Regions from separate parts of the Homo sapiens genome. Here all the other regions are linked to region 2. The links come from fine-mapping of genetic effects on gene expression. A gene starts in region 2. Each other region holds a variant in brackets. All regions are shown on one strand. Distances are between the middles of the regions.

Region 1 (6,978 bases), 24 kb after region 2:
AGTGATCCAGCATCCCCTTGGAGCTGCTTACCAGCTTGACTAGGACAACACACAGAGTTAGAGGTCAATGAGGAGGAAAAAAATGTCAACAAAATCTTTCTTCCTGGCCCCCCAAAAGTGTTTTGGGGCTCTAAAATACAAGCATATGCTTCACATGTTTCCAGTGAACATTTTCCATGTCAAATATACCTCTGGCTTTTTTTTCTTTTGTCCTGGCAAGCTGTGTTGCTTCTGGATTTTTAATACTCAAACCCCACAAAATGTATCTCTCAATGTTTTTCATCCAGTGTTTTTAAGAAAAATTTCTATTGACAGTCCACAAGACTCAGTGGATTTTAATCAAGATAGGCTGGGAAAGTTTCAGATTACATCCCAAAGACAATGGTTAGAATGGCAGGGCAGGTGTGGGTACACCTCTTTCAGATGTTGCTGTATAGGAAGTGTAGTGCTTGGAATCGAGTTTTACGGCATTTTACTTTCTGACATGATAGTTTCTGTAACTTACATAAGGGATTTGTGTGTGTGTGTGTGTGTGTGCGTGCGTGTGTGAGTGTTTTAGTTACATATTTGGAAATCTACTGGGGACTTGGGGCATTCATTAAGCCAGAGTTTACCATTTAAATAGGACAGAGGGTGCTATTCTGCAGAATGCTTGATTTCCATGAATGGTCTACCATTAGGAGATGGCTGTATGTTGCCCTGTTGCTCTGGGGCTGGTTCAGGGATAATCCTTTCCATATGAGAGCTCCCAGTCTCAGAAGTCTCCCCACTAAGCCTATCTAGAATGCCCCTCAGTGCCCATTTAAGTCACCTGTGCTGCTGGTTTCCTTGCAAGAGGACTAAGAGGATCAGCCGGGCAGTGTTTCAAAACCTCGCCACTATTGGCATTTGGGGCTGGATAATTCTTTGTTGTGGGGGCTGTCCTGGGCATTGTAGGATGTTTTCCAGCATCCCTGACCCCTGCCCGCTAGACGCCAGCAATACCCTGCTTCAGCTGTGATAGCCAAAAATGTCTGCAGACCAGTCCAAATGTCCCCTGGGGGGAAAAATTACCCCCAGTTGAGAAGCTGAGAACCACTGAGGTAGAGGGTAGCTGCAAATTTCCTCACAGAAAGGTGCCATGAAAATGTAGTAGTTGAAGTAGAATTTATTTATTTTTGATGCTTCTAATTGCAATTCTGTTACTTAACATGACATAAAGAAACCATATTTCCCAAAGCAAAATTCAGAATGCACAACAAAAGCTTTTTTTAAAAAACAAAAACAAAGACTCTTGTACGAATGTATTTACTCACCAGCAGTATACAGTTTAAGGCACATTTGTATAGGGGTTTTTTTCTGCTCTCTTCCGCCTTTATCCTTCACAGGTATTTCCCTTAATCAATCTCTTGTATGTTTAATTCCTTCTTGGCCTCCGCTTCTAGGAGAACTTAAATGGATTCAAAGACTCAAAAAAAGTGGTAGTGGCAGCTGAAGCCAATATGGCCATGGAGGGCACCACTCAGATCCCTTTAACAGAACCTGCTGCAAGGAGCAGAGTGGACTGACAGCCTTGGCTGCCACCCCTAAGGACACTAGACCAGACTTACCCCGGCTGCCTCTGGGCAGTGACTGAGTACGTAGGAGCGTTTGTGCTGATCCATTCCTACCCAACGAGGGTGACTCCTCTCATGGAGAATTTTAGCTTGGGAACTCCCCAGCAATCTGGCCAAGATGTTCTCAGAACTGTACTGCAGTCTGAGGTTCTTCCACCTAGCCTTTCCTGCTCTCTCTTTTACACAGGTGTGGGACCTGTGTTGTGGAGGGCTCTCCCTGCCTATTCCTGCTCCCTTGAACCCTGGATCCTTCACAGGTGTTGCCCCCAAAACATCTCTTACACTTCTAATCCCATCCTGTCTGCTTCTCAGAGAACAGACAAGTAATGAATTCCCTTCACTAAAACAAAATTATGCAAAATATAATATGTATAATAAAATTATACAAGCTATAACAAGGTAATGGAATAATTATACTATTAAAATCAGAGATGTACCAGAAAATCGGCATGTACAATTACCTTAGCTTTGCTTCCCTTAGATGTGTTCTCTTAGGAAAGGATTGCATTCCTAAGAGAATTATCTGTATTAAGGAACAGGCACTCCATAATTGCCTTCCCCACCCCTCCACCTGGAACTTTCTCTAATAATGTAGAAGACACCTGCACACCAATGGTATCATAATCCTTTTTCCTGACGTGGCTTTGGATTCCATTCTATCCAGATAGAGGAATGGAACCCCGGATCCATTCAGTTCACAGAGACACGAATCCTCTAAGCTAAGATGTCATTTTACCCTCACCCCCAAACAAACCTGCTTCCTTGTTCTTGTCTATCCCTCCTCTTCTTCTTCCTCTTCAAATGTGATGACCATTATTCAACATGAAGATATGAGTCTGGGATATAGAGCAGGCTGAAACTTAAGGACTGAGGCTTTGCCTTTGTAGCCAGAAAGAGAAAAGTAGTCCCTGACAGCTGGCTCTTACTGGCCAGGTGCTCATGGCTGGGCTGTAATGTTTTTCTGCTGAACCACAGCCTATCTCACAGATTGCCAGCATCAGACAGGGGCTGGCAAAAACAAGACCATTCTGTAATCACGTCTGAGTAGGGACAAAAACAAGGTCACTGTGAAAATCACAAGAATCACTAAATATCCCCCACTCCAGCTAACACAACTGACTGCTTGCTGTTTTTTTAACCAATCACAGCTTTAGCCCTGCTGCACGCATTCCACCTTCTGCATAAAAATTAAGATGCCCTCTCATAGTATTGCTCCTGCCTCCTGATAGCATCCAATCCAGCGCAAACCCCTGCTTCCTTAAGACGTCTCTCAAATCAGTTAACATGAGCCCATATATATTAGAAGTCCCTTCTAACACCGTCTTACTGAGACACCCCATGGTTCCTCATCACAGACAGACTCCCCCACTGCAACAAATTAAAAAATCCAATTTTGTTCCTGGGGGTCTTTGGCTACAGGGCACAGGCAGTAGTTAGTTGGTCAGGTCCTGGCCAGTTCTATGACTCTGGCTCCCAAGGTGCTAGATTCTGCCTATGAAAGAAAAGGATAAGAAATTAAAGAGTACAAGACAATGAGGAGGAAAAGGATTTCATGACAGACAGCTCAGATGGGGATGAATCTCCTGACCAGAGTTCCCACTCCAACTCTCATTGCCCTGTGACCTTGAACAATTCATACGAATTCTTCCTCATTGGTAAAGTGGAAATACACTTAACCTTCACAGGGCTGTAAAACAAGTTCCAAACCAATCAAGACCGAGAACAAGCCATGTACAGTGGCCAGCATACGGAAAACACATGCTGCACGGGTGGGAGACACTGGTGAGTTGGACTTATAGTGAGTTGAGGAGAAGACCGAAGGTCCTGAGAACTGAGGAGGAGATGAACTGAGAGAGAGTGAAAATCTGGTCATTTTGGGAGAGAGAAGAGCTAAGAACATCAAGGGGAAACAAAGCTGGAAATAGGAATTTAGGACACTGATATGGTTTCGGTGTTTGTTCCCTCCAAATCTCATGTTGAGATGTGATCTCCAGTTTTGGAGTTGGGGCCTGGTGGGAGGTGATTGGATCATGGCGGTGGACTCCACATGAATGGCTTAGCACTATCACCTAATTCTCTTGGTGATGAGTGAGTTCTCACTATATGAATTCACCCAAGAACTTGTTGTTTAAAAGGAGCCTGGCACCTCCTCCTCTCTCTTGCTCCCTCTCTTGCCATGTGGCATGCTGCATCCCCTTCACCTTCTGCCATGACAGGAAGCTTCCTGATGCCCTCACCAGATACAGATGCTGGCACCATCCTTTGTGTACAGCTTGCAGAACCATGAGTCAAATAAGCCTCTTTTCTTTATAAACTACCCAGCCTCAGGTGTTCCTTTATAGCACTGCAAATGGACTAACACAGAGACAGAGGAAATTGGTGACCAACATTATCCCAACTGGGAGTTCTTTGCCCTTGAAGGGTACCTCAGCTTACGACCATCTTGCTAGGGGAAAAGAGATTTGGGGAGGCACCGGGAACTGTAGCAGAGAAATAGTGGTAACGGATAAGGAGCAACATTGGA[A/G]AGATGAGTGTTGAGGGAGAGGCCAAGAAAGACAGGAGAGGGATATCTGTCCCGAAAATGAGGTCCACAAGTCCACAAGCCTGGAGAGCTGACTCAGAGGGAGCCATGGCTGGACAGTTCTCCCCTTACCTTCCTTTGTGCATCAGAAGGAAGCAAATCAGGTAAGAACTGCACAGCAGGGGCCAGGTCCCAGCCTCCCGGTGGCCTTCATGATGCTCTTCCCAAGACTCAACCTTGGGTCTCCTGAACAGTCACCAAATCAGAAACACACAGGCCTTTCAGGAGAATAGAACAATTACGAGGGTCACCTTCCAGAGACGCAGGAGACCAAAGTCAACATCTCCACTTCTAACTAGCGGGTGGAAATAGAGTGTACCGGTTAGGAAAACCAGTGCTTCTAGGAGAGACTAGACCTAATGGGACTGTGAACTCAAAAGAGGAGAAAACAGAAAGGTGCCTGGAAGGTTTTTGGTACTTCTGGGCCAACTTAGTGAAGAATGGGCCTAGCTCTAGGCCTTTAAGCCACGCTACCCCGTCACACGGCTCACATTTTTAGCTGTGTACTTTACCTGTGGGAGGACTGTCAGGTCCCAGGTGGGGAAATGCACGCTGCAAAAGAAAAAGCTGGTCAAAACTAGGATGTAGGGGTGTCTGATGGCATAAACTATTTTTGCTCTCATTGGCGAAAATGTCAGCCAGCAACTCACTTGGCAAAGCCCTTAGTACAGTCTCATGGGTAAATGGGGCTCATTTGCCACTCCCCTTTGTCCTCAGTCAGGGTCCTAGACCTTTCCTCACTCACAGGCTGATGGTCTTGAACCTGGTTATAAGGGGTTTCTGGGCTCTAATTAGAACCACGGTTCCCCACTGATGAGTGCCTCGCTTCTCCCCAGGACTCTGCAGAAGGCCCCAGGGGAGTAGGCAAGGCCTCAGCTCACAGCCTCCTACAGCCCAGCTGCCCCACCCTTGGGCTGTGCGTTGGGCTGGGCCGGTGCCTGCAGGGCTCAGGGCTGAGCTTGAACTGCCATTCTGAGACTAACCATGGGCCCAACCGTGCCTCGGGACTCCCATCCCCACTGTCCAATGACTGCCCCTGGTCCCTGGGGACTCCTTCCCATCCCTTCTCCCCTTTCCCTCCCTTCTCTCCCCCACTCCCATCTGAGGCATCACCCTCTGTGGCCTCCTCCTTCTCCAGGCTCTTCTTTCTCAAAGGTCTTTGTCACTCACTGTTGGAGGATTTTGTATCCACTCTGGCCTAGGTATCTTTTCCCCCGGTTGTCTATAGTTTAAAATCATGGCTTGGAAGTGGAAGGCAAGGTGAAGACAGGTGACAGCTGATTAAAAAATATGCCTCAGGCTGAGCGCGGTGGCTCATGCCTGTAATCCTAGCACTTTGGGAGGCCGATGTGGGCAGATTACGAGGTCAGGAGATCGAGACCATCCTGGCCAACATGGTGAAACCCCGTCTCTACTAAAATACAAAAAATTAGCCTGGCTTGGTGGTGCACTCCTGTAGTCCCAGCTACTTGGGAGGCTGAGGCAGGGGAATCGCTTGAACCCAGGAGGCGGAGGTTGCAGTGAGGCGAGATTGCACCACTGCACTCCAGCCTGGCAGCAGAGTGAGTCTCTATCTCAAAACAAAAACAAAAACAAAACAAAAAACAAAAAACAAACCCAGAAACAAAAGTAAAATACGCTTCAAGACATACCCCATACCCCTTCCTCCCCTGGGAGATGAGGGGGAGGGAAGGGCCCAGGTGAGTCTACTCTTGGAGGCCCTTCCTAACAGCCCAGGATGAGAGCTTTACCTTGTAAACTAGAAACCAGATCTGGGAGAGACTGGGGGCTGAGGTGAGCTGGGATCTTTGGCTAGGGGTTTTTGGAGTAGCCCCTGGAGATGTCTGGGAGGCAATGTCCCCTGAGCACCAGCAGGCCTTTAATGGGCCTCTGTGGCAAGAACACTTGCATGGGAACTTGCTGGAAGGATTTGACCAACTCAAACCCTTGCTTATTGCTTCCTCTCCCCCTTCCTCACCTCATCACGTCCTTACCAACTCAGGGTGGCTGTCCAGATGGGGGTCAAGCACAGTGGCCCGTGTTTGTTCTGCAGAAGCCCATCCCTAGCACAGCCGTTACCTTCAAAACCCTCTTCTTGACTCTTGGGGTCCTCAAAGAACTTGGGAGGGAGGACCTGGAAAATGTCACTTTGGATACTTAAAGGTGGACTAAAACAGCACAAAGGTGCCTGTTTCTCTCCACCCCAAACCATGGCTATGATGAGATGGATCAAGAAATCCCCAAAATGCCACCGTCCCCAGTGGAACCTGTTTGGTTCTCTTTATTCCCCGATGCCCTGAATATGGGTTTTCTCTCTTTTTCAGGTGAGAAGATATTACGTTGCTGTTGCTAAAGGTCTGGTAGTTCTCTATGCAGAGGTTTGGGCTGAAGGTGAATGCTGAGGTGTGCTTGTCTCTTACAGATGCAAAATCTATAACCTGTGAGCTGCTCTGGCCTTCAGCATTCCTGAAGAGCAGGGTGGGATGCATGATTTTCATTTTCAGTATCCAAATGAAAATTATTAAAGAATATCACTGGGAAATCATTACAATATGTTTTAATTAGTTTATAGATTAATGTAGTTTGTTTACTAACGTAAGTAACTTGTAATATGGTCTGTTGCCTTGGGAGCAGAGCTAGAAACGAAAGCTCACAGTTAGGTAAACTGAATAAAGATTGGCAAAGGACTCCCATCACATTTTATTATTGCCCTGATAGCCACAGCCCCTCATTCATTTCTCTTCTAGTTTTGTAACCGCCCAAGGGGTTCACCTTGCCTGTTGCCTAGACAGAGTTGATTCA
Region 2 (6,978 bases):
AACAGCAGTCCCCAACCTTTTTGGCACCAGGGACTGGTTTCATGGAAGACAATTTTCCCACGGATGCGGGGTTGGGGTGATGGTTTCAGGATGAAACTGTTCCACCTCAGATCATTGGGCGTTAGATTCTCATAAGGAGTGTGCAACCTAGACCTTCTCATGCACAGTTCACAATAGGGCTTGTGCTCCCATGAGAATGTAATGCTGCTGCTGACCTGACAGGAGGCGGAGCTCAGGTGGTAATGCTCGCCTACCCACCACTCACCTCCTGCTGATGGGCCTAGTTGCTAACAGGCCACGGACCAGTACTGTGGACCAGTACTGGTCCATAGCCTGGAGGTTGGGGACTCCTGATATAAAAGATAAAGAAAATGATACACTGGTATAGGGCACTTACCATGAATGGAGCTTGCAGGACTGGAAGTTGCTCTGAGTGAGTCAGTGAGTGGTGAGTGAACGTGGACATTACTGTACACTACTCTGGACTCTATAAAACACTGCACACATAAGCTGCATTACATTTTTTTAAAAAATGGTTTTCTTTTTTAATAATAAATTAACCTGAGCTTACCATAACTTTTTTTACTTTGTAAACTTTTGAACTCATTTAACTTTTTTACTTTTATAACATTTAGCTTAAAACACAAACACATTGAACAGTTGTACAAAATTATTTTCTCTATATCCTTATTCTATAGGCTTTTTCTAGTTATTATTACTTTTTTACTTTTTAAACTTTTTGTTAAAAACTAAGACACAAACGCACATTAGCCCATGCCTACACAGGGTCAGGATTATCAGTGTCACTGTCTTCCACCTCCACCTCTTGTCTCAGTGGGAGGTCTTCAGGGACAGTCACACACATGGAGCTATCATATCCTATGATAACAGTGCCTTCTTCTGGAAAACCTCCTGATGGACCCACCTTAGGCTGTTTCACAGTTAACTTTTTTAAAAAAAAAGTAGAAAGAGTACACTCTAAAATAATGATAAAAAGTATAGCACAGTAAATACATAAACCAGTGACACGGTCATTTATTATCATCGTATTAGTTCATTCTCGCACTGCTATAAAGAACTGCCCAAGAATGGGTAATTTAGAAAGGAAAGAGGTTTAATTGACTCACAGTTCTGCATGGCTGGGGAGGCCTCAGGAAACTAATAATCATGGTGGAAGGCAAAGGAGAAGCAGACACCTTCTTCACATGGCAGCAGGACAGAGTGAGTACAAGCAGGGGAAATGCCAGATGCTTATAAAACCATCAGATCTCATGAGACTCACTATCACGAGAACAGCATGGGAGAAACTTGCCCCCATGGTTCAATGACCTCCACCTGGTCTTTCCCATGACACATGGGGATTATGAGGATTACAATTCAAGGTGAGATTTTGGGTGGGGACACAGCCAAGCCATATCATTCCACCCCGGCCCCTCCCAAATCTCATGCTCTCACATTTCAAAGCACAATCATGTGGGGCAGAATGATATGGTTTGACTATGTTCTCACCCAAATTCTTATCTTGAATTGTAATCCTCATAATGCCCATGTGTCAAGGGAGAGACCAGGTGGAGGTCATTGAACGATGGGGGTGGTTTCCCCCATGCTGTCCTTGTGATAGTGAGTTCTCATGAGATCTTATGGTTTTATAAGTGTTTGGCAGTTCCTCCTGCATTCATTGTACCTCCTGCCTCCTTGCGAAGAAGGTGTTTGTTTCCCCTTCACCTTCTGCCACAATTGTAAATTTCCTGAGGCCTCCCCAGCCGTGTGGAACTGTAAATCAATTAAACCTCTTTCCTTTCTAAATTACCCAGTCTTGGGCAGTTCTTTAGAGTAGTGTGAAAACGGACTAACAAAATCAAGTATTATGTGCTAACATGACCTTATATGCTCTACTTCGATATGACTGGCAGTAAATTTGTTTACACCAGCATCACCACAAACTTGGGAATAATGAGTTGCACTATGACTTTACAACCCTTTGTGACATCACTAGGTGTTAGGAATTTTTCTGCCCCATTATAATCTTATGGAAGCATATCACATATGTGGCCTGTTGTTGACTGAACTGTCATGATGCAGCATGTGACAACACATCACTGCCGTGTGCTCCTCAGACCCCATCAGATTTCTCTGGTTGTCCCAACTGCATCCTTGAGAATGGAGGGTCCAGTCCAGAATCACATATTGCATTTAGTTCTGTGTCTTCAGTCTCCTTCAGCCTGAAACACTTCCTCAGCCAGGAGCTTTGAAAATTACTGGCAGTCATTTTGCAGAATGCTCCTCCATTTGGGATTGTCTGATGTCTCTCTGGCCGGAGTCCTATGGAGTGATGCCACATTCTCACTGCAGCCCCCCAGGTGCTGCAAGCTTTTTATTGGCCCTGTTGATGTTTACTTTGGTCACAGATGAGGTGATGTCTGCCAGCCTTCTTCACCATGAAGTTGCTCTTTTTCTCTCTGGAATGGATAAGTGTTTTGTGGGCAGATACTTTGAGGCTATGTAAACATCCCATTGAAGAACATCAGACTTTCAATGCGTTCCCTTACTTACTTATATCTGTGTGCACTGGTGGTTTCCCATCTGTTACTGTCACTATGTTGGTGCTCAAATTGTCCCTGATTCTGACCACTGAAGGCTCCTTCAAGCTGGCTCTGTGTCCTACTGACGTGTTCCCATTATTCATTAAGCACTTCCTTGTTTTCTGGCAAAACAACAAGTTCCGGGCTCATTTTCTGCACCCCACTCCTACTTCCCAGTGCTAGAATCAGCCGTTTCTGCAAGGTGCTCTGGTTCCTTTAGTGGAAAGTCATATTCAGAAGCCAGTATTCAGGTGCTAGGAGTGCTCCAGGCTATGCGGGGCTGGCTGCTCCAGGCCCCCCAGTGACTGTGGGGACTAGACACACACACATTTCCATCTATATATATGGACTTATCTTTATGTATTCAAGGCCACAAGGGTACACTGATCATTCCGATTTTAATCCCACACAACAGGATTCATTCCAGTTTTCTCTCCATATACATAACTTCCTTCTCTGACAATAGGAAACCTAACTCCCACTGTCTTCAGTAGATTTATTTGATCAGTATCCCTGTGTGTAACCAATCTCCCGTCTCTGCCACCAGCCTCTCTCCCACATGGATCCCCTCCTTGCCTCACTTGGACTCCAGCACTCCAGGCAGGGCCTTTGCTTTCCCCAGGATGCTCCCTCCACCCTGCTGGGCTCCCACACCCCACACCAGTCCACCCCTTGAGGGCACATTCTCCCCACATCCTCTCTGGTACCTCTGGGGCACGATGGCTTCTCCCTCCGCCACCTTTGCTATGCCCCACTTTGTGGCTTTAGGACAGGACTCAGGAGAAAGGGAAGACAAGAAGGGAAGGAATCCCTTGGATTTTTTAACCAAAAAATGCATCAAGTACATGGAGACAGAGCCACAAAATAATCATAACAAATATTCTAAACCAATCAGACAGCCAGCCCCAGATCACCCTATAAGGGGGCATTGCTACCCCGTGACAGCTGGGTAGCCTGGGCAAATTCCCTAACCTCACCGAGCCTCAATTTCCTCAATGGTAAAATGGGGAAAGGACAGTGCTTCCCTCGTGGTTTGGGTGTGAAGCTTCTGTGAGTTAATGTTAGTGAACAGCCAGCCTCAGCCCCTACCCAAGGTAGCTGCTCCGCAGATGTGATGACAACCACCGTGTGTTTCTCAGAATCCTAGGAAATAAGGGCTTCTTTCTAGAAGGCAGGGCCAGGATGCTGCGTGGGTGTTCCCTGGCAGAGAGGCTCTGTGGCCCTCAGGACTTCATCCTTCTGCAGGCTTGTGTGTTTGTTTTATTTTTTTGGCACGCCTGCAGCCAAGTTGGGGAGGGTTTCCTGGACAGAGGTCCTTTGGCTGCTGCCTTAAGACGTGCAGCCTGGGCCGTGGCTGTCACTGCGTTCGGACCCAGACCCGCTGCAGGCAGCAGCAGCCCCCGCCCGCGCAGCAGCATGGAGCTCTGGGGGGCCTACCTCCTCCTCTGCCTCTTCTCCCTCCTGACCCAGGTCACCACCGAGCCACCAACCCAGAAGCCCAAGAAGATTGTAAATGCCAAGAAAGGTAAGGAGGGGGACAGAGCCCTGTGCCATCTTCCAGGGAGCAGGTCCCCCTCTCCTTAGTGTGTCCTCATGCTCCTTTCCTTCATTTTCCTCCTTTTGAGTCATCTAGGGAACTTGAGTAAAGTGGGCTTTGGGGCTTGGGGGAGTTCTCTCATAGCAGAGTTGGTTGTCAGAATCATAAGAATCCCTGACCCTTAGAGTTGGGAAGAACCTTCCAGATCATCCAAACTGATCTTTGCTCTTCTCTCCTCCCCTCATCCCCAATATTTTAAAGAAACCAAACCTTTGGCCTGGGAGTCTGGCAGCGCTCAGCCCTTACCAGGGAGAGCTGCACAGGCTGGGCTTTGGAGTCTTCCAACCTGTTTTCTCAACTGTAAAATGGGGACAGTGGTATTTGTTCAAAGACTTCTCATGAAGATTTTATGATACAAAATATATAAAGGCACCTCACTTGTTGCTTGATGCACAGGGAAAAGAAAAAGAAGAAGAAATGAATTCTCATTTCTGTAGCATATCACAGCCTTCAGGAAATAAATGTAACTCAGACTAGTCCACCAGAAGCAGCTTTGCTCTGCTTTGTAGCCTCTGGGGATTGGGGTGTCCCTCGGTTGCTTTGGCTACAGCAAGACTTGCCCTTGCAGCCCCGCCTGCAGTGAGGTCACCCCAGGCTGTGTTGAGACAACATCAGTGGAATGTCATGGCAATGGACGGGGCTGTCACCCCCCCAGGGAGCAGAGGCTAGAAGAGAGTCCAAGGGGATGAGGGTGGGGACTGAGGCAGAGAAACAAGCAGCTAGGACCAAGGGCACAGAAAAGGAAAGAAGGGGCTGTGGGGGCCTCCCTTAGGCCCTCCCGGGGCTCTTCATAAATGGACAGTTGCCCACTGGCCAGGAACTAGTGCAGTGCATAAAGGGACATCGGGGCCATGGGGCCTCACAACACTGTGACAAAGAATGGGGCAAATCTGGCTGCTGATAAAAAAATCATCTTCAAGATTCAGTTTACAAAGTGAAAAAAGAAACATTCAAAAGAGAATGAGTATGATGCTGACATTTGCTTTGAAAAAGGGATTTATATAATAATACATTTTTACTTGTATGTGCATAAGTTCTTTCTGGAAGGATCCACAAGAGTGAGTAACAGTGATTACCTCTGGGAAGAAAAACCAGGGGCTGGGCGCAGTCTCAACTGGGAAAGAAACCAGCTTTTTGAACTGTTTGGATTTTAAAAAATTATGTGTGTATATTACCTTCCACAAAATGTTCATTTAAAAAGAGAAGACAATACCGTGCATAGTTACGTCTATGAGCATTAGCCAAAATCGCCACCAAGGGAGAGCCTTTGTAAAAGATGCAGCTCCAAAGGCAAATCATAGAATTTTTGAATGTGGAAAACCATCGCCAGCTTCTCAAGTTTACCAAAGATTCAGTATTAATATAATTATGTAAATCTTTTTAAACTCATGTTAAAAAAAAAAGGGTCAGAGCACGTGATGCCTTGGTTCTCTCCAGCTGTCACACTTGAACCCTGGCCCTATGTGGTCTCCATAGAAGGGGCCCCTGGAGTTCCAGGGCTACAGGCCAACAGAACAGCCACCCAGGCCCTGCCTCTCGCTGAAACCCATGGCAGTCTCCCGCCCACCAACATGGCAGGCACTTATAGAGCTCTTTCTCCACGTAGGCACCAGTCTATATGCTGGACACACAGCAGAGAAACACCGTCTCTGCTCTTAAGACATGAACCATGGTGGTTCTCACTCAGGCATCAACATCATCTGGGAGATACATTAGAATCCAGGTGCCTTGGCCAGGCGTGGTGGCTCAAGCCTGTAATCTCAGCACTTTAGGAGGCCAAGGTGGGAGGATCGCTTGAGGCCAGGAGTTCAAGACAAGTCTGGCCAACATGGTGAAACCCTGTCTCTACTAAAAATACAAAAATTAGCTGAGTGTGATGGTGTACACGTGTAGTCCCAGCTACTCAGGAGGCTGAGGCAGGAGAATTGCTTGAACCTGGGAGGTGGAGGTTGCAATGGGCCGAGATTGCACCACTGCACTCCAGCCTGGGTGACAGAGTAAGTGAGACTCCGTCTCAAAAATAAATCAATAAATAAAATAAAAGTTAAGAATTCAGGTGCTTGGGCCCCACCCCTGGAAATGCTGGTTTAGGGATCTTGGTGAGTTTAGCATCTGCCTTTTCCACAGGTCTTCAGGGATTCCTAGGAGCAGCCAGGAATGAGAATCTCAGGGGCAATCTAGTTGCAGGGCTGGTGCCCAAAAGTACGGGAGAAAGTCCAAAGAAGGGACGGTCATGCCAGAGGAGACCAGTTGGTGCCAGGGCCAAGAGGGGGAGAGCAAGTGGCAGGACTGGCAAAGGAAGGGAATGCCAGCATATGCTAAGTCCTTGTCCTGGCCCTCAGGGTGGGTGAGAAGCGGGGAGCCTAGAGTACTTCTGGGAGCTCATCTGTTCTTGGGGCCACATGGTCACACCTGGCAGGGAAGCTCCGGAGGGAAGGATGGCCTCATAGGAGTCACAGGCCTTTAGAACAGGGAACTGGGGGAACCTGGAGGGCATCCATTCTAACATCACGCAGAAGGAACCTGAGGCTCAGAGAGTGGGCCAGCACAAAGGCCTCCTGACTCTGCCCAGGGCCGTAGAGACACCTACTCCCACAGCTTCCTCAGGTGGAGCTAATGAGAGTAGCTTCCTGTACCTTGGACAGTCCCTGGAGGAAACTTTGCACATATGGGCACCTTGGTGCAAATTACAAAAGGTACCTCCTCTAAACTGACAAATTATAGAAAGGCATCTCTTTTTCTGGTCTGACCCACTCTAGCCAGGGCAAGGCTTAGGAGACAAATGGGCCTTCATGTGTC
Region 3 (6,978 bases), 31 kb before region 2:
ACGTTTCATTGTGGCTCTGTGTCTAAATATGACTCCAAGTTAGCCTGCTGCTCTTATCCCTTTCTTGTCCCAGCTGTAAAGGATGAGTGACTCTAGTGTGAGAGGATTCTTTGAGTTGCCTCTTCCCAAGATCTGGCTTCTAGAAGTAGCCTATCTTTCCTGGCTTAGAGTGGCTGCCTGCTGGTCTCTTTTCCTCCTCTGTGGGTCTCAAAAGGATCCCCACAGGCCCAAGAGCTCCAGTATCTAGGTAGTTCTCCTGAATTGATTTCTCAAGATGGACAGTCTCAAAGTGGCACACTTTACCTTCTTTAAGTGGCTCAGCTAATGTAATCAGCCGGGCAAGTAGAATCACCATGAGAGAGTCACAAAACCCCATTTCCTACAGAGATGGGAGAGGTTACCAAGCACTGATCGCTGCCACCTGTATCAGAACCTCAATTGAGTCTTCAAGGAGCATAATTATTTTAATTGCATAAACAAGTGTGTCCTTTTATTCTGAATCAGTGAATAGGAATGGCTTCTGGACACCCGTGGATGTGCCCAGCAATAAGGGTGCCACACACCCACTCCCACCTGGACTCCAGGCATAGGGCCTCTGCTGGAGAGCTCAAGGCATTTGCCTATCCACAGGCTGAAACATAGTTGCTGCCCAGTGGAAGGAAATAAATTGGTGGTGATGGTGGTGGTGATGGTGGTGAGGGTTTCTTCTGCTGCTCTGAGTCTAGTTTGATTTAACTTCTTGTTAGCAACTTCCAGTTTTAATTAAATTGCCAGGGGTAGAGAGGTCTCAGAAAACTAATTGATTTTCTGCCAACCCATTTCACTTGGTTTTGTCTACTTGGGATGATAATACATGGAGCCAAGATAGACACTGTCGCCACCTCCATAATTTACCCTGTTTCTTGGGAATGACGAAAAATCTTTGATATAGCCCTCACAGCCCTTTGGAAAGACTGCTGCACTGACCCTGAGCCCTGTTCCAGAGATGCCTGGCAGCACTGTCACTAAACTGGGAGCAAAATCTGACCTTTTCATGTCTTTGGTTTGCTGGTTGTAGCTGAGAGTAGGCTATTTTAAATGAGAATTTGGAAACTTTAGGAAAAGGTGGTTTCTATCTAAAGCCCAAAGGAAGGGAAGATTTTAGTGAGCTGGTGTGTCACCCTGCGCTGCCACTAGGCGGCGAGCCATCAAGTTGCTTCTCAGTTCTCCGACCATTGTGTTGATGGGTTTAGGACTGTGGTTTAACCTCTTAGAGAGGCTTGGGTTTTTAACTAGGGGAGTTTAGGAGAACATTTTTCATTCATAAATGTTTCAGAATACTCCGCACTTGTCACTTCCCTTTGGGATCTTAACTATTTTTCAATGTGAACACTTGTATTTTTCACTAAAATTGAACCAGAATCTTCAAGCCTGCATTGGTGGTTGGAGTCACTATATCTGGGTTCCTTGCCTGCTTAGTGCTGCTAAAGGGGACACTGTTCCTGGCTGAGGGGCTGGGGGTGGGTACAAAGCAGAGAGGCAACCTGCAGAAGCCTTTTGAGGCTAATTGTAATCAAAGTCTCCCAAGCTGATGAGATAACTCTCGCAGACACTTCAAACAAAGGCTTGTGATGAAAACCTCAGAATATACTTACTATTGGTCTGGTACCCATTTACAGGGAGGCTTCTACAGGCTCAGACATGAGCACATGTACACTCAGAGGAATCAGCCTTAGGGCCTGTGTTGGGGCTAGATGACTACTGGAGGGGTAAGGCCCAGGTCAGCCCTGCCTAGGTACCCACTAGATCACTTTTTCTGCTGTGGGCCTGGCCTGACCTGGACGTAAGACTTCATAGATTTGTAGGCTAGATTGATTGCCAGGCAAGCAACAGTGGGCCCAGTGTCTAGAGTCCCTTTCCAGGTAGGCATGGCCTTGATCTCAGCCTACCCCAGTTAAACCAGAGATGTTCCAAGCAGGAGGGTAGAGGTGATGAGTCAGAAGGGGTGGAGAGCTGGGAGGGGTAGCATTCCCAGGATCTTAATTAGTTTATCCAGCTCAGTAAACAATTTCCCACAACTCTGGAAGAGGGACTGGTCATGCTTTATGAAGGGTCAGAATTGGTTTTGGTAAATGCAGAAAGCATTTGGTTTTATGCCCAAAAGACCAAGTGTGTACACCCCCCACTGAAGGAGTAGATTGTGATGCATATGAGCAGGCAGCTACAATTACCAGCCTGTGTTTTCTTTCTCTCTCTAACAGAGCAGAGCAGCTTTTTATTTAGGGCTTCCTTGGTCAACATTCCTTGACTCCAACATTTGTTGTCTAGTGATAAGTTCCAAGACCAAAGCATACATTCATTTCCCTGAGGCAAAAGGTAAAACCAAGGAAAGTGAACCTGACTAATGTTAGACTATAAACCAAGCTTGCCAAATTACAGATTCAAGGAGAGTACAGGGAAGCATAGAAGATAAGGGCCAGGCTGCCTGGGTTAGAATTTTAGCTTACCAGGCACAGTCATCATGTGGCCTTGGACAAATTACATAACCTCTCTGTGACTCAGTTTTCTTGTTTCTAGAATGGAATCCATACCTCCTAGGGTTGTTGTGAACATTAAATGAGTTAATACACCTAAAGTACTAAGAGTGGTGTCTAGCTCATGCTAAACATTAAAAAAAAAAAAAAAAAGATAAGGTCTCCCTTCTTGTAAAATGAGAGAGTTAGACCATCTGGGGTTTCACAGTGTCATCCCACAGGTCAGATCCCACCTGGGAGATTTTTGTTTCATGTAGGGATTTTTTTTTTTTTTAAGGTGGACCTTAAATCAGGGCTAGAAAGTTTGCCACAGCTTCCATCATTCTCTATTAGTTATATGTGGCCCTTTGTTCAGATACATGTAGTAACCTTGCTGACCCCTATAGCCATTTGGGTTTTTATCCTCTGGAGATGGTCTCTAAGGCCTTTTCCAGGTCTACATTTCTGTCTAAATTTGTCAGAAAGAGTCCTTGGGCTGTGAGTGCCCAGTAGTGAAGTGGAATCCTCATTTCTCTATTCCAGCCTTTGTCTTCACACATCAGCAGAATATGGGGTCTGTGGCTTTCTTATGTTGCTTAAAGCATTGTACCCCATCCCCCACCCTGAACAATTGCTTTCCGTTTTCCTAGCCTCCTCCCCAGAGTCACTGCACAGCTATGGCACCATCCAGTTACAGGAGAGTTCCTTGGGCTCATGAGTCTCTAAACCTTCCTCTCTGTCTGACTGCTGGCTATGGTGGAAGAATGGGTGTGTGTGTGTGTGTGTGTGTGTGTGTGTGTGTGTGTGTGTGTGTGTGTTTTAAGCCATTTAAAAATAGGTAAAAATTTCCACTTTAACCCAGTGTCAAAAAAAAACCAGTGGGGCATGGGTTTGTTGTTGTTGTTGTTATTTTGAGACGGAGTTTCACTCTTGTTGACCAGGCTGGAGTGCAGTGGTGCGATCTCAGCTCACTGCAACCTCTGCCTCAGGTTCAAGTGATTCTTGTGCCTCAGCCTCCTAAGTAGCTGGGATTACAGGCATGTGCCACCACGCCCAGATAATTTTTGTATTATTAGTAGAGACGGGGTTTCTACATGTTGGTCAGGCTGGTCTCGAACCCCCGACCTCAGGTGATCCACCCGCCTTGGCCTCCGAAAGTGCTGGGATTGCAGGCGTGAGCCACCACGCCTGGCCAGGGGCATGCATGGTTTTATAGGTA[G/A]ATTAATTTAGACAGTTGGACCTGGGAAGCTCTATAAATCATCTCCCAAGGCTGTAGAAGAGTTAGTGCATTAATCCCAAAGAAATTAGTCACACCCAGGAGGATGTGCCCACTACATTCAGGGAAAGGTAAACATTTTGAGTGTAAGCATCTCTGGCTGGATTTGTGTACACAGAAATCTCTGTAGATGTATTTTTAAGCACTTAAGACCTGGGACTTAATATTGATTGCTTAGTGTTTAAATTAGAAACAGGTTGTGTTTTGCTGGCTGTGCAAAGTAAAAACCTGGTCCCTGTTGACTTGATTATTTCACCATAAATGAGCTGCTTTTCTTGGCTCAGTGCCTGAGTCCAGCAAAGGCAGGGAACAGCGAGGTTGCTATGGCAGTAATGAAGTCTCTCTTGGGGACTTTAAAGGGGATTCTGCTGGCTCACAGTGGTAAAGGAGGAGTACATAATTAGAGAGGCAAAATTTTATGTAACAACATAGTCTGATTAATTTGGGATTCATTCTTCCACCTATATTACTAAGTGAGATTTCTTTTAGTGTTACACAAATAGGGTGGGCACTGCCATGGGCGTTCACACAGGTTTTGCTTTGCCTGGAATCTTCCTGCCTCTCTGGCCTGACCAGCTCTGCTCATCCCAGGTTTGAGGTCGCCTTTAAACCTGAATGCTAATTGACACTCCTGTGCCCCTACTCCCGCTTCTACCTCACTGTTTGCTCCCTATGGTGAAACTCCCCTACCTCACTGGAACTGCTGGCTTTGGGTCTGCATCCACCTCACTTAGTCTCTAGGTCTCTGGTAGCTGGTGCAGGGCTGGGTGCCTTCCAGATGGGCAAGGGGTCAGAAGGCTTTAATATGTGATTTTATAGAGTCCATGCTGAAACCACTGGCTTCTTACCTTTCTAGTCCTTTACTGTTACAGTAAAATAATTACTAGAATGTTACTTACCTCATATACATATTAAGGGTTTGTTTGTATTAAGCCAAAAACTCTCAGAAATGTCCTGTTAAACACTTCAGTGTTTTTAGGGTGGCTAATGTTGAATCCTGTTAGTTTTGTTGAGGTTATTGGGCATAAATATCAAGAAGCCAAAAAGGGAAAAAAAAAGTTTTTCTCTTGAAAAATATCAAATGAAGGAGGTAACCTACTACTTACAAGCCAACAATCTTTCCCTTGCTTTCTTTCATTTTCCTTCTCTTCAGTACAGTGATATCTAAAGTTTCTGACAAAGCTCTGACATACTATCATACATGTCTTTTAAGTTATTCCAGAAAGGTTATTGTACTTACATTGTGGTTTTTATATTGAGAGTATCGTAGTGTGTTCTAAAGCTGTGAAACTAGAGGTGGTGTATATGACAAAACCCCTCTGTAACCCAGACTGCTTCATTCCCTAGGCCTCTCAGTTTCCTAGGCCTGCCAGAGAAGAGTATTTATTATACTCTGAAGATAAGAGAGTTAATTATTATCGGCCGAGGTTCACATTACCATCACTCTCCTGTTTCTCTTTGACTAAAGATGGCTTCTGTTAGATGCTATTGGGAAATCCCATCACACACACTGACAAATCCAGGTCACAGTGCTGGTCTGGTTCATTACATGTGTCTGGAGTCAGGAAAAGTGGCAGATGCCATCCTTTCCTCATCTCAGTGACTTTCTGTCGAGCAGCTGGCTCTTCCAGCATTCTACAGGGAAACTGGAATAAAGCTTTGCCTCTTTGCTTTTTGCACTTGGAAAGACTCACCCAGTTTTTTTGTTTCTGTTTTGTATAGTTCAGCCAGTGCTACCCCTGAATTTGAAGGTAGAGGAGGTGATGACCTTGGCACCGAGATCGCTAACACCCTCTATCGGATATTTAACAATAAAAGCAGTGTCGACTTAAAGACCCTCTGCATTAGTCCTCGGGAGCACTGCTGGGTTCTCTATGTGGATGTGCTGGTGAGTATCATCGTGCTGTACTGGCCACATTCTACCTTTGTTGGAAAGACTAGTTGGCCTATTTTCCTTCCAGTGCTTTTTTCCTCTTCAGGTGGATGCTTTCAACTTATAGGGTGGGATTAGTTGGGAAAAGATGGTCTCCTATAATAATTTTTTTAAAAATTAAATACAACATAGATGTAAGCAGCATATATATAATGCCATTCTATGATAAAATTATAGTCATATCATGATAGCACCTAAAATTGCCCATAAAAATTGTCCAGGAAGAGTAAAACAAGAGATGGTCTCTGGATGGTGCCAGACAGAGTTCATGGGCAGAATTTAAGCAGGTTGGTACATTCTGTGTGGAAGGATGATTAGCTCTTTACATGCATTTTCATTTAAACCTTATAAACCTGTTACAAATGGACACTGTTATATTTCCCATTTATAAGTGAGGAAACTAAGACAGACAGAGGTAAATCAACTAGCCCAAGAGGTCTCAGCTTGTGAGTAGTGCTGTTGAGTCTCAAAGCCAGGTCTGTATGATGTGAACACCTGGTTTGACTTCACTGTGCCATTGTTTCTTTTAAACACCTCAGAACGTGCCTGCCTTTAGTTTCCTGGGTGAGGCCCCAGAGGCCCTGCCTCCTCCCACACAGAGTCTACTCCCCTGGGAGTCTTTTGAGTCCAGCCCGTCATTTCTTCCCTTGTACTTTGCCTCCCAAATACTCCTCTACCCAGGTTTTGGCACTCGACAGTAACTTCTCTGTGTAGCTCTAATTAATTTTTTTTTGTTTTTTTGTTTTTTTTTTTTTTGAGATGGAGTCTTGCTCTGTCACCCAGGCTGGAGTGCAATGGCGTGATCTTGGCTCACTGCAACCTCTGCTTCCCAGGTTCAATCGATTCTCATGTCTCAGCCTCCTGAGTAGCTGGGACTACAGGCACATGTCACCATGCCTGGCTCATTTTTGTATTATTAGTAGAGATGGGGTTTCATCATGTTGGCCAGGCATGTCTGGAACTCCTGACCTCAAGTGATCCACCTGCCTCGGCCTCCCAAAGTGCGGGGATTACAGGTGCAAACCACCGTGCCTGGCCTTACGGGGATTACAGGTGCAAACCACCGTGCCTGGCCTTAATTTTGCTTTTGTATAATCACGTAGCAGTTGGTTGCTTGTTTATATATAGGCTCTTGTTGGGTCTGTTTTGAACCATGAGATTAGCAACTACATCTTCCACTTCAGATGAAGGACAAAAAGCTAAGCTATTGGCCAAATAGATTCTTTAATGAATGTGCAGATAAAGGAGATCTGTGAACTGATGGTGAACTTCATGAA

What was found. PIP is the estimated chance that this variant, and not a neighbour inherited with it, causes the effect. A credible set is the group of variants that fine-mapping cannot tell apart.
Region 1: its variant is the best candidate, but not a certain one, in a credible set for the expression of CLEC3B in aorta (GTEx, PIP 0.57).
Region 3: its variant is the best candidate, but not a certain one, in a credible set for the expression of CLEC3B in esophagus muscle (GTEx, PIP 0.70).

Annotation. Positions count from the first base shown.
Region 1 is chr3:45,046,804-45,053,781 of GRCh38, forward strand. No RefSeq gene overlaps it. Among named protein-coding and RNA genes, the nearest start is that of CLEC3B, 24 kb to the left of the region's middle. The variant A/G (reference allele first, on the strand shown) is at 4,120.
Region 2 is chr3:45,022,365-45,029,342 of GRCh38, forward strand. CLEC3B (C-type lectin domain family 3 member B) reads left to right here and starts at 3,939. Exons shown (of 3, transcript NM_003278.3): 1 at 3,939-4,107. The coding sequence starts at 3,999. RefSeq lists enhancers at 4,319-4,820, 4,821-5,320.
Region 3 is chr3:44,991,597-44,998,574 of GRCh38, forward strand. It overlaps EXOSC7 (exosome component 7), which reads left to right. Exons shown (of 8, transcript NM_015004.4): 4 at 5,491-5,656. Among named protein-coding and RNA genes, the nearest start is that of EXOSC7, 19 kb to the left of the region's middle. The variant G/A (reference allele first, on the strand shown) is at 3,712.